2 separate regions of the Homo sapiens genome follow, and region 1 is linked to region 2. Evidence: fine-mapped expression QTL. A gene starts in region 2. The other region holds a variant in brackets. All regions are shown on one strand. Distances are from middle to middle. Region 1 overlaps LIG1 (DNA ligase 1). Region 2 holds the start of LIG1 (DNA ligase 1).

Region 1 (5,369 bases), 33 kb before region 2:
AGTGATCTGCCTGCTTCAGGCTCCCAAGTGCTGGGATTACAGGCGTGAGCCACTGTGCCTGGCCGCTGCCAGCGTCTTTCTATACCTCTCCTGGGGTCACTGACCCTTCACTGTTTGCCACCTTCCTGATCTTTGTCACCATCCTTGTGTCAAGCACCAGCCTTGTCTAGATCACCACCTCTGCTCTCAGTCACCCCGTGACCGGCACTCGTGATGCCTGTCCGTCACTTCACTGGCCCCACCCACTGCTCCTCTGGCTCCACCCCCACCCTGGCACTCTGCCCACAGCCCCTGGCAACTCCACCCACTGCCCAGCTCTCACCAGAACGTCTGCTTCAGGATCATGCCTTGCTCCTCCAGCCACGTCTTTCTGGCCTCTGCTGTCTTGCCCTTCCCAGCATCCACCATGGCTGGTGGGAATTCTAAGAAAAGACCCACCAGAGGCTTTGGAAGGCACCCACATCCTTGGCTACACCAGGGTGCAGTGGGTGGTTTGCTGTATGGCAAGGAATGCAGATGCCGCGGCCCAAGACGCCCCCTCCCCCCCACCCAGGAGAGAGGAGCCTGGTATGGCAGGGGCCCGCTGGGGAAGGGGCGGGCATGGGCCTCTGAAGAGGAGGGGGGAAGCCTGAGGTAACTCCAGCGAGGGATGCAGAGACGGGCCACAGGAGCTCACCTTGGCCCGGGGGCGTGAGGCTCACTGCCTGGGAGAGGGCAGCCAGCACCGACTGCTCTGCCAGCCCAAGGCGCAGCCGTCCGCTCAGGGACCTGGGGAGAGAGCAGGCCAGGGAAGGGGGCTTGTCTGCACCTCCCCAATCTTGCCTCCTCCCTTCTCTGATCTCCTCGACCTTGATGTATGTAGACCCTCTCCTCAAAAACCAGAAGAATCTTCAGAGCCTGGAAGGGACCCCAGATATCACACAGCCCCATGTGACAGATGAGGAAACTGAGCCAGGCAGTAATGATCCTGCCCACTAGCATAGACTGGGGAGGGGCACAAGTAGGTGCACCAGCACCTCCCATCTCAGCTGCCCTGAGGGGTTGGCGAGGCTTGAGGAGGATGAGTCAGGGAGAGAACTGAGCCTGGCGCCCGCCCTGGTGACTGTAATGGTCAGGACCCCAGCATGGTCCTTGCTTTGAGCCAGTGGCAGGAGACAAGTGGCTTAGTTTGCCTCCCCATGTCTCCATTTCCCCTTCTATAAACTGGAGGTGAGGGTAACAAGACCAGTCTCACAGAGTTGCTGGTAGGAACTGATGAGGTAAGGCACGGGGCACAGGGCAGGGCTCCCAAGAAATGCTCCATGATGTGAGCCCTCAATGGATTTGCTCTCACTGTCATGGCAAACAAACCCTGGCTTCCTGCTGCAGGGCCCGCGCCCAAGCCGAGGCAGACCTCACCAATCAATCACAGCATGCTTCACCCACAGGGGCCCAGGGGCCTTCTCTAGACAGCACTACCAAGGGACAGAAGCTGGCCTGTGAAAGGAAATGGTGTCCCTTCCCACTCTTTAGGGGCTGGGCCTCCTGCTCATGCTTTTCTCATCCAAGGATGGTCAGGGCATTTGTGATGATTCCAGCTGCCAGTCCCTCCCTCCTTTCACCTCCGAGCCTGCAGTCCCCCTCTGTAGCCTCACAGGCCCACACGCTTACCTAGCGATGAACCGGGCTTCTGAGTGGCGGCAGGCCACAAAGAGGCCTTTGATGATGTCTATCTTCTTGGCTGTGGACTGGAGAGTCAGGGGAAGAGCCGTCAGTGCCTGGTGAAGGCAGGGACCACACCTCCACCCCACCAGCCGTGCTGCTGCCCTGCATTTTGGAATACCTGCCCTCCTTCCCTCACCCCATCCCCATGTCCCAGCTCCCATGGCCGCCCACTCTTAGGGCAGTAAGAACGAGCTAGCTCTCCTCCTTGCCTCCCTCTCCCTTTATCCAGGAAGTATTTACTGAGTCCTGTCATGTGGCAGCCATGGCATTAGGTCTGCTAGACTCTGAAGAGGAGACTCCCCTAGGATTGGGTGCAGGAAGGAGGAGAGGAAGCTGTGCACCCCATGAGAAGGACTGATGCGACCCAGCTGATGGTCTACCCAGAAGCCTTCCTGACACACGCGTGGCCTCAGGTCCCCAAGATGTCTGGGGTCCGGGATGAGCGGCCCGCCCCACTCACAGCACTGCCAGTGAGCCTGGCGATGTCGCGGAACTTGCTGAAGACCCCGGAGGCAGTGAGCGGAGGTGGTGGCAGCATGAGCCTCTGGGTGCTGCGGCTGTTCTCGGCCACCAGCCCCACGTCGCCTTTCTCGGCTGCCTCAGCCCGGACGGACTCCAGCTGCCGACCTTCAGGGGAGAGCGCGGGTGGGGGTGTCGAGGGTGACAGTTGTGGCTGCGTGTCTCCCTTCTCTCGCGGCCTGGATGAATTTTCTCCAGCTGTGTGTGCTTGTGGCGAGTCCCTGCACCTCCCTGTGTCTAACGCTCACCCACTTGGTAGAAATGGCTTGGGGAACGTGCCCCCAGCCACGCTGGCTGTAGGAAGTCAGCAAACATGCACGTGGAGCCAGGAAAGCGGTGGATGAACGAGCATGACCACACTCAGGGGAGACATCTGGGCCGGTGTCATCAGGGCGCGGATGGGATTTAAAGCCACAGGCGGGACAAGGTCACTAGGGAAGTGAGTGTGGACAGAGCAGAGAAGGCCAAGGGACCCTTTCCT[C/T]TGGCGGGTCATGAACATCTCTGGCAGTGACCAAAGACCCTTCGGCTTGTTTTGGAGCCACCAGCTTACACACGTGGGATGTGCTCTGGCCCCACTTACTGTCCAGAGCTGGGTCCCATGGGCGCCTGGGTGTAAGAGCTGGGGAGATGGAGCCTCAAGTCACGGTGACAGCTGTGACAAGCAGCTCTCAACCTATCAGAACCAACACACCCTTGTCACCAGATACTGTGTGTCACCTCTTTTCTGGTCTGAAATAAAATGTGGAGATAACATAACCTGCCTACACCTATCGAGATAACGCCCTAACCCTAACACAGAAAAGAATGAAAGGGAAAGCAATCCGTAATGAACGAACAAGTGCGCGTTTCAGTCCACAGATGCTCAGCCGCGGCACAGAGCACATGAAGGTGGGCCTCGCGCCTGAAGCGAAACTGCCACAAATGGGAGAGCCGACAGTGTGAGCCTCACCAATGGGATGTTATCGAATCACACATCAAAGGGGACGGGATTCTCCAAAGTGGCCAACAACTCACAACAAACCCGGGACTTGGACAGCCACGGGGGCCACAAGGCGGCACGGAGAGCAGTGTGAGTGTGAACACGACCCATCAAGGGTGGAGGCATGAGACAGTGGAAGAGGCCCCAGCTGCCATGGATTGTTGGGCAGGAAAGCCAGCATCTGCAACTTCTTTTGTGAGAAAAACAGATCCTTCTTTGTCCAAGCCAATGTAGTTGGGTTTTCTGTTACCTGCAGCTCAGAGTATTCTTAACCGACCCCGTGTGTGCTGGGTCTGGTATGACGTCAGTGCTCCCGAAACACATCTTGAGTGAATGAGTGAGAAAATCTTGAGTCTCATCTCCTCTGGCTCCCATAAGCCCGTAACTCTTTCCTGATCCAAGTCAACCTTTCTCAGTCCCTCTGTCCTCTCATGAAAGCCTGAAACCCCTGCCTTCCCTAAATGTTGGTGCCCATGGCCCTAAGCCAGCTCCAGTGCTCCCAGCACATCCTCTCCCCAGGCGGATGAGAACCCACCAGTGGGTGGTCATCCCTCCTACACTGACCAGCCCGAACCCTGGGCTCTGAGCCAGACCTGGTGAGCCTCAGACCCGTTTCCAAACTTCCTGGATGGCCCTGGGGGCCCACAGATAGAGGTTGCTCATGCCTGCCCCACGCTGGGGTGATTAATGCCCCCTGCAGGTGCCTGCCCCTCACCAGGGTCCCAAGCTGCCGACGGCTTTGTCATCCATCCAGTCACCCAGGGAGATCCTGGAGGCATTCCTCCTGCCTCCTCACCCTGACATCCACTGTCTGCCAGATCTCTCCTGCCCTCTTCTCTCTTCTCTACAGCTGGGGTCCAGCTCCTCTTCCCCCTGGATGCTGCCCCTTGCCTGCTCACAATCCTTCCATGGCTCCCCAGTGTCCTCATGATAAGCACCGAGCACTCCAGGCCCTTGGCAGGCGGGCCATCCGCATCACCAGCCTTTCCACCCAGCACTGGCGGCTGGGCCCCTTCAGGCTGCTGGCCCCCCACACACCATGTTCTTTCCTCCCACTCCTTCCAATCCCTCCAGTCAAAGTCCTTTCAGACCTCTCTAAGCCCCAACCTTCCATCTCAGCCCCCAAATCCTGCTGTCTCTGCCTCCAGCATCTTTCCCCAGCCCTCCCCTTCCCTGCACCCCACACCCCCTGTCCCAGCACATGCCTGGTCCTCCCTCACCTGAACTGCTGCCCCTGTGTTCTCTCCCACACCCCTGCAAATCTGTCCCCATCAGGCTCTCCTCCCTCTCAGCCTTCTCCTCAACCCTGTTTCACAGCCTCTCTCCACCATCTCTCCGATCCACCTGACCTCTGCATTTTCTCTGGCTGAGCTCCTGTCCTTCTGGTCCCTCCAACCACAGTCCCCCTTACCTGTGGCCTGGGCCACTGCCTTGAGAAGGACACCATCACCCACGCCAAGCTCCAGGCCCTGCTGGGGTGGCCCAAGGTGGTTGAGGCTGAGGTAGAGGACAGGGAGGAGGTCTGGAGGCGACAGGGCCACCACGGAGCGCAGCAAGTTGCTCAGCGTCTCCACCATCCGGAGCCTGGAGGAGGGGACGGGGGTATGAACACGTGGTTCCTCAAGGTCAAAGTGTGGTGTCGGGGTGGGGTGGGTTTAAGGGGGTGGACACTAGAAAGAAATGGAGAAAGAAGAGGAAAGGGCTCAGAACAGTCCCAGGCTCTGGGGCCTGGAGCCATGAGGACAATCACAGATTGCTGGAGGTGAAACCGCCTTTGCAAAACCGTAACTGAGGAAATTATGACAGTGGAAAGAAATCACACCTAACCGATTCCATCTTGCTTCTAACCTTTAAGCTGTCCTTGTTCAGTCCTGGGCATAGGCAGAACTAACTTTGGGAAGGAATTTGGTTCGTGGCTTGACTCTGAAACGAAATTGGTAATAGCCCTTTCTGGAAAAGACCCCTTTTTGCCTAAGGACCTGCCTTCGCAAGACTCACAAATTAGCTACAAGATTAGAAATTTAGGTTTAGGGGTCACGCAGCCTCTGGCTTCCCCGATTGCTCCTGGGGATAACATCACTACTGTAAAACCTAAGATGAGTGCTTAAGATAGTTTGCAGACCCTGCACTCAGTCTGACGCCACCCAGACTGTAATCTGGCTCAACA
Region 2 (5,369 bases):
AGCAGGAAGTAAGCAATGCTTCAACCAAACAGTTCACACAGAAAGCAGGTTAGGGACTTAGCCACCAAAATCCTGAGGGCAAAGGAGAAAACTATTACGATCCCTCCTGAGTGCTCAACTGCCTAGGTACTTGACATTCTCAATTATACTGACTCTCCACAACAACTCTGTTACAGAAACTAAGGCACAGAGGGGTTTTCAAAGGAACTTAACCTGCATCTATAGTACGTTCCACCCCAGGTCGGCCTGCTCCACAGCTCACCTCTTAACCACCAGACTGAGTTGCAAGGGAAGGAGAAATACATAAGCGTTTACTGGGAAGCCTACTCTATGCCTGACAGGCTGATCACATTCTCAAATACCCTCAATCCTCAAGTCAGCCCTCCAAGACAGGTGAGATCATCCCCACTTTATAGATGAAGGTAATGAGGACAGAGGAACATAGCTGGGGTTCAGGCAAGGCTTCAAAACCCGGTGTGGCTGGCTCCAAAGCCCACGTTCCTTTCTCCTTACCACGGTACTCAAGGCTGGCTTCTCAACTCTGTGTACTGCTGAGTTGGGGGGAACAAACTGGTTGATGCCTCTGGAGGACCACCTGGCGTCTCTATCGGAACGGCAACCCCACTTCTGTGTATTTGGCCCACAGAGACCCTCACAGGTGGACCAAGTGAGGCACAAAGTTACCTGCTGCAGCACTAACTGTAATGAGAGAAGACTGGAAACTGGTGGAATGTCTACCCTTAGGGAACTGGTTCCCTCATTACTGGAATACCATATGGTAGAATATTGTTCAGGGTTAAAATTAAATGAATGATGGATAAAAGGTATAGGAGTTTTTTGGGGGGATGATAAAAATATCCTAAAATCGATTATGGTAATAACTGCACAACTCAGCGCATACACTGAAAACCACTGACTTGTACACTTTAAATGGGCACTTTAAATACACTGAAATACACTTTAAATACACTGAAAACCGCTGACTTGTACATTTTAAATGGGCAAAATTGTACACTTTAAATGGGCAAACTGTATAATTGTGAATTATATCTCAATAAAGCGGTTACCAAAATGAAGAGATAATGACAGGAAAAATATCAAGTAAGGATGAAACAGTACTCAGTAATAAAAAGAAACGAAGCACTGATACAAGCAACAACTTGGGTGGACCTCCAGGGCATTGTGCAGAGTAGAAAAAAGGTAACATCCTAATAATATATGATTCCATTTACATAACAATCTCCGAATGACAAAACTAGAGATGGTGAACACATTAGCGGTTGCCAGGGGCCTGGGGAGGAGTTCTTATGTGGAGAGGGAACTGTTCTATATCACAATTACGATGGGGGTTACACAAATCTATACAAGGAATCAAGCTGCACGGGCACACAGATGCACAATCACACTCACACCACACAAACTGGTGAAAACTGAACAAGGTCTGTAATCTAGTTAACAGAACTGTATTGATGTCAATTTCCTGGTTTCGATATTGGGACTACATAAGATGTCACCATTAGGGGAAGATGGATATACTCTTTTCACAACTTCCTTGAATCTATAATTATTTCAAAATAAAAAGTAAAAACAAGAGGTAAGCTCCATCCCTTTATCAAGCATACATTAGGCCAGACGTCTCCCCATTCAGATGATTCTCCATCTTTTACGAGCCCTTTACCTAGACCTGGACCTTACCACTGACCTCTCCCTGACACCACCCATCTCCCTCCAGTAGGGCCCACTCCTTCCAGGTGATGCTGCTGCCCGCGATTTACCTTCTTCTAGCCCCGCCCCCTCAGCACTTCCAGGTGGCCCCCGCCCCCTCAGCACTTCCGGTTCCCAGCCAGCCCCACCCTTGGCACCTCCCCCTTCCAGGTGGCCCCGCCCACACGCAATCTTTTCCCCGGCCCCGCCCCTTAGCTCCCTTCAGCCCCTCCCCCTCCCAGATAGCCCCGCCCCCTCGGGGGGCCTTCCGATTTCCAGCTGGCCCCGCCCACACAGTTTTCCCCCCCCCGGCCCCGCCCCTCAGTTCCATTTGGCCTCTCCCCTTTCCAGGTGAACTCGCACCTCAAGGCCTCTTCTCAGAGGACCTGTCCAACTGTCTCTGTCTCTCGTCTACCCTCTACCTGGCCCCCCTCCCTCTGGGAGACACCTCTCTGCACTCTCCGGCGGCCCGCAGCCCGCGCTCTTCCGTCTCCACCGCGCTCTCGGCAGCCTCAGCGTCCCCACGCCCACTCCTCTGCAGACACCCCGACATGGCGAAGCATAGGCCCCAAGCATTCGGCGCACCCGCCGCCCTCCGCCTCCCATCTGCTTGCGGACGGCCCCACTTGCCTTGCGTTGGTCCCGCGCGCCGCTGCCCGGGCAACACACTCAGATCCGCCAGGCGCGCCTCTGCAGTCCCAAGTTCGCGCCACGGCATTCGCGCGCAGACGTCTGCGGGCGGGGGCGGGGCAGAGCCTAGGGGCGGGACCTGGGCACCGTCCGCACCGCCGCCGTCGCGCGGAGGACACTGGGAGTCGTAGTCTCCCGAATGGGAGGAGGGCGGGAAAAGGGGTGAAGTGGGGCGAGCCCTCCCGCAGAGCACACTGGGAAAATGCCCGCGCTTTCCCTCGCCCTGGATGAGCGGGTGTGGCTGAGGGTCTGAGGAGTGACTGGCAGGGAAAGAGGAGGAATCGGTGGAAGCGCCCCCGCGAGGCACGGCGGGAAGAGAGGCGGGAGACCGCGCGGGGCATCCCGGGAGCAAGGGCCGGGCCAGGCCTGGGCGCGGGGCATTGTGGGAGGTGGACGCCGCTCCGGGGCGGGTAGGTGAGTGGGGAGGGGCGGGAAGGGTGCACATCTTGGGGAGGGGAGAGGCACAGCTAGGTGGGACGGCGGGGCTGGAAGGTGCCGCAGCGGGCGGGGAGGGGGGGAGTAGGAGGGTCGGGAGCGGGCTGGATGGGGCTGCTCGAGGGGAGACGCGCAGCTGGACGTGGGGGGAGCATCTGGGGTGAAGGAGCCCATCCGAGGACGAGGGGCCATGTCTAGAACGAAGATGCATATTGCGGGGGATGGTGGATGTAACTGGGAGGAGGGGCCCACAGCTGGACTGGGGGCCGCATCTGAGGAGGAGGGGACCACAGGTGAATACTGGTGACACTTCCGAGGAGAACTAGCCACAAGTGGGGCACACACCTGTAGGCGAAGCGTGGATAACTGCATGTGGGGAGTACATCTGGAGATGAGAGTGTCTCAGGGAAGCCCCAGCTACAGCTGCATGTGGCGAGCCATAGGGTCATAATCGGGGGAAGGGGCAACAGCTGCACGCCAGAGGCACATCTGGGGAGTGCGGAGCCACAGGTGCATGAAGCATGTGACCGGGTGAGGGGTCCGTGGCCTGGATGTGGGAGCACATCTGGAGATGGAGCGTCTTTGGAGGGGTTACAGCCAACTGTTGGCACATGGAAGGAGGAGTTCCAGATGAATACGAGAGTTAGAAGTTACTCTTGGGTGAGAGACACAGCTGGAAGGGGAGGAGGTTTTAGCTGGAATTTGAGAACACATTTGAGGAGATGTCCTTAAGGGACATCTGAGCTTAAGGGTCGTATTTTGGGAGGAGAGATTCCAACTGTACCTAAGGGTCACATCTGCGGAGGAGGAGACGAGTTGGAATTAGGAATCAAGATGACAGGCTCCAAGTGAACCAGGGATAAGGCGGTGGGAGGAGGCCAAAGATAGGATGGAGGTTGATATTTATATATTTGGAGAAAAACAGGCACGTCCGACCCCGGGCTACCCACCTCGATAGAGGCACCAGCAACCGACGGGGCAGGCCAAGAATGGAGTAGATGAGATACCCCGGGTGGGAATGGGTCTGATATCCACCTGTTCTCCCCTCCTCCACGCAGGCCCCCAGGATGGAGCGGCCGGAGCCCCCACCCGGCACGGCTGCGGGGCAGGAGGAGCAGGAGCTGCGGGAGCGGGCCTTCTTCTCGTGGGCCGAGTTCAGCCGCTTCTTCGACGCGTGGTGCCAGCAGCGGCTGGCGCTCTTCTTCGTCAAGAGCTCCATGCACCTGGCGCGCTGCCGCTGGGCCAGTGCGCCCCCGCTCTACACGCTCATCGACGTGCTCAAGTACAGCTACGTGCGGCTTGTGTGCAAGGACGTGCGTGCGCCCAGCCGGCCCGCCGTGGGGTGCGTGAACCTGAGCCGCTGTCCTGCTGGGGGGAAGGGGAGCACCGGGGGTGGGTGTGGGTGGGAGACGGGCAGAGAACACCCCACCCAGAGATGCAGAGGGGGAGAGGCCAACTGAGGCAGCCAAATACACCTTGCAGAGAGGCGGGAGTCAAGGAGGGACATGTACTGAGAGAAGAAGAGGAGCTAGAGAGACAAAGATACTCACGGAGCAAGAGATGGTGTGGGCCCGACTTACAGACTTTTTTTTTTTTTTCGAGATGGAGTCTCGCTCTGTCGCCCAGGCTTGAGTGCAGTGGTGCCATCTGCAGCCTCCACCTCCTAGGTTCAAGTGATTCTCCCGCCTCAGCCTCCCGAGTAGCTAGGACTACAGGCACCTGCCATCATGCCCGGCTAATTTTTGTGTGGTTTTTTGTTTTTGTTTTTGTTTTGTTTTGCTTTGTGTTGTTTTTTTGAGACAGAGTCTTGCTCTGTCACTCAGGCTGGAGTGCAATGGCACAATCTCGGCTCACTGCAACCTCCACCTCCCGAGTTCAAGCGTTGTTTCTCCTGCCTCAACCTCCTGAGTAGCTGGGATTACAGGCACGCGCCACCACGCCTGGCCAATTTTTGGATTTTTGTAGAGATGGGGTTTCACCATGTTGGCCAGGCTGGTCTCAAACTCATGACCTCAGGTGATCTGCCCGTCTTGCCTCCCAAAGTGCTGGGATTACAGCCGCGAGCCACTGTGCCCGGCCTGACTTACAGAATGTAATAGAGACTTCGAGAGGCAGAGCGTAAAACACACACACCCCAAGAGGAGAAAATAGTCACGGAAAATTCCAGAAACATGGAGACATGGAGGCAGAGACACCAGAGACAGCCAGGGAAACAGAAGAGCCAGGTTTTGTACACGTGACAAAGACTGGGAGACAGAGACTGGGAGACTGAACTGCAGAGAAGCCGCAGGATAAAGAAAAGGATCCATCTATTCAGTGAATAAGGGGCCAGGTCCCATGCTGTGGGCTGGGGATATTCTAGTTGGAGCGATGGAGTTGGGCAAGAGACAAAAATCCCTGCCCTTCTGGTACTTTCTGACTGGACAGAAAGATTGACGTTAAAAGAACAAGCTCACAGGTAGTTCCCTACAACTGTGCAAAGAGGGGCAGGTGAGAAATCCAGGAGAGCCAGAATCACACCCAGGTGGCCAGGGGTATTT

The links. PIP is the estimated chance that this variant, and not a neighbour inherited with it, causes the effect.
Region 1: its variant is fine-mapped to the expression of LIG1 in whole blood (TOPMed, PIP above 0.99).

What each region holds. Positions count from the first base shown.
Region 1 is chr19:48,135,358-48,140,726 of GRCh38, forward strand. It overlaps LIG1 (DNA ligase 1), which reads right to left. Exons shown (of 28, transcript NM_000234.3): 12 at 4,614-4,786; 13 at 2,165-2,331; 14 at 1,651-1,727; 15 at 677-768; 16 at 323-422. Among named protein-coding and RNA genes, the nearest start is that of LIG1-AS1, 7.8 kb to the right of the region's middle. The variant C/T (reference allele first, on the strand shown) is at 2,705.
Region 2 is chr19:48,167,907-48,173,275 of GRCh38, forward strand. LIG1 (DNA ligase 1) reads right to left here and starts at 2,438. Exons shown (of 28, transcript NM_000234.3): 1 at 2,335-2,438. ZSWIM9 (zinc finger SWIM-type containing 9) reads left to right here and starts at 2,774. Exons shown (of 4, transcript NM_199341.4): 1 at 2,774-2,808; 2 at 3,888-4,171. The coding sequence starts at 3,897. RefSeq lists silencers at 1,877-1,946, 1,977-2,026, 2,827-2,966 and an enhancer at 1,920-2,579.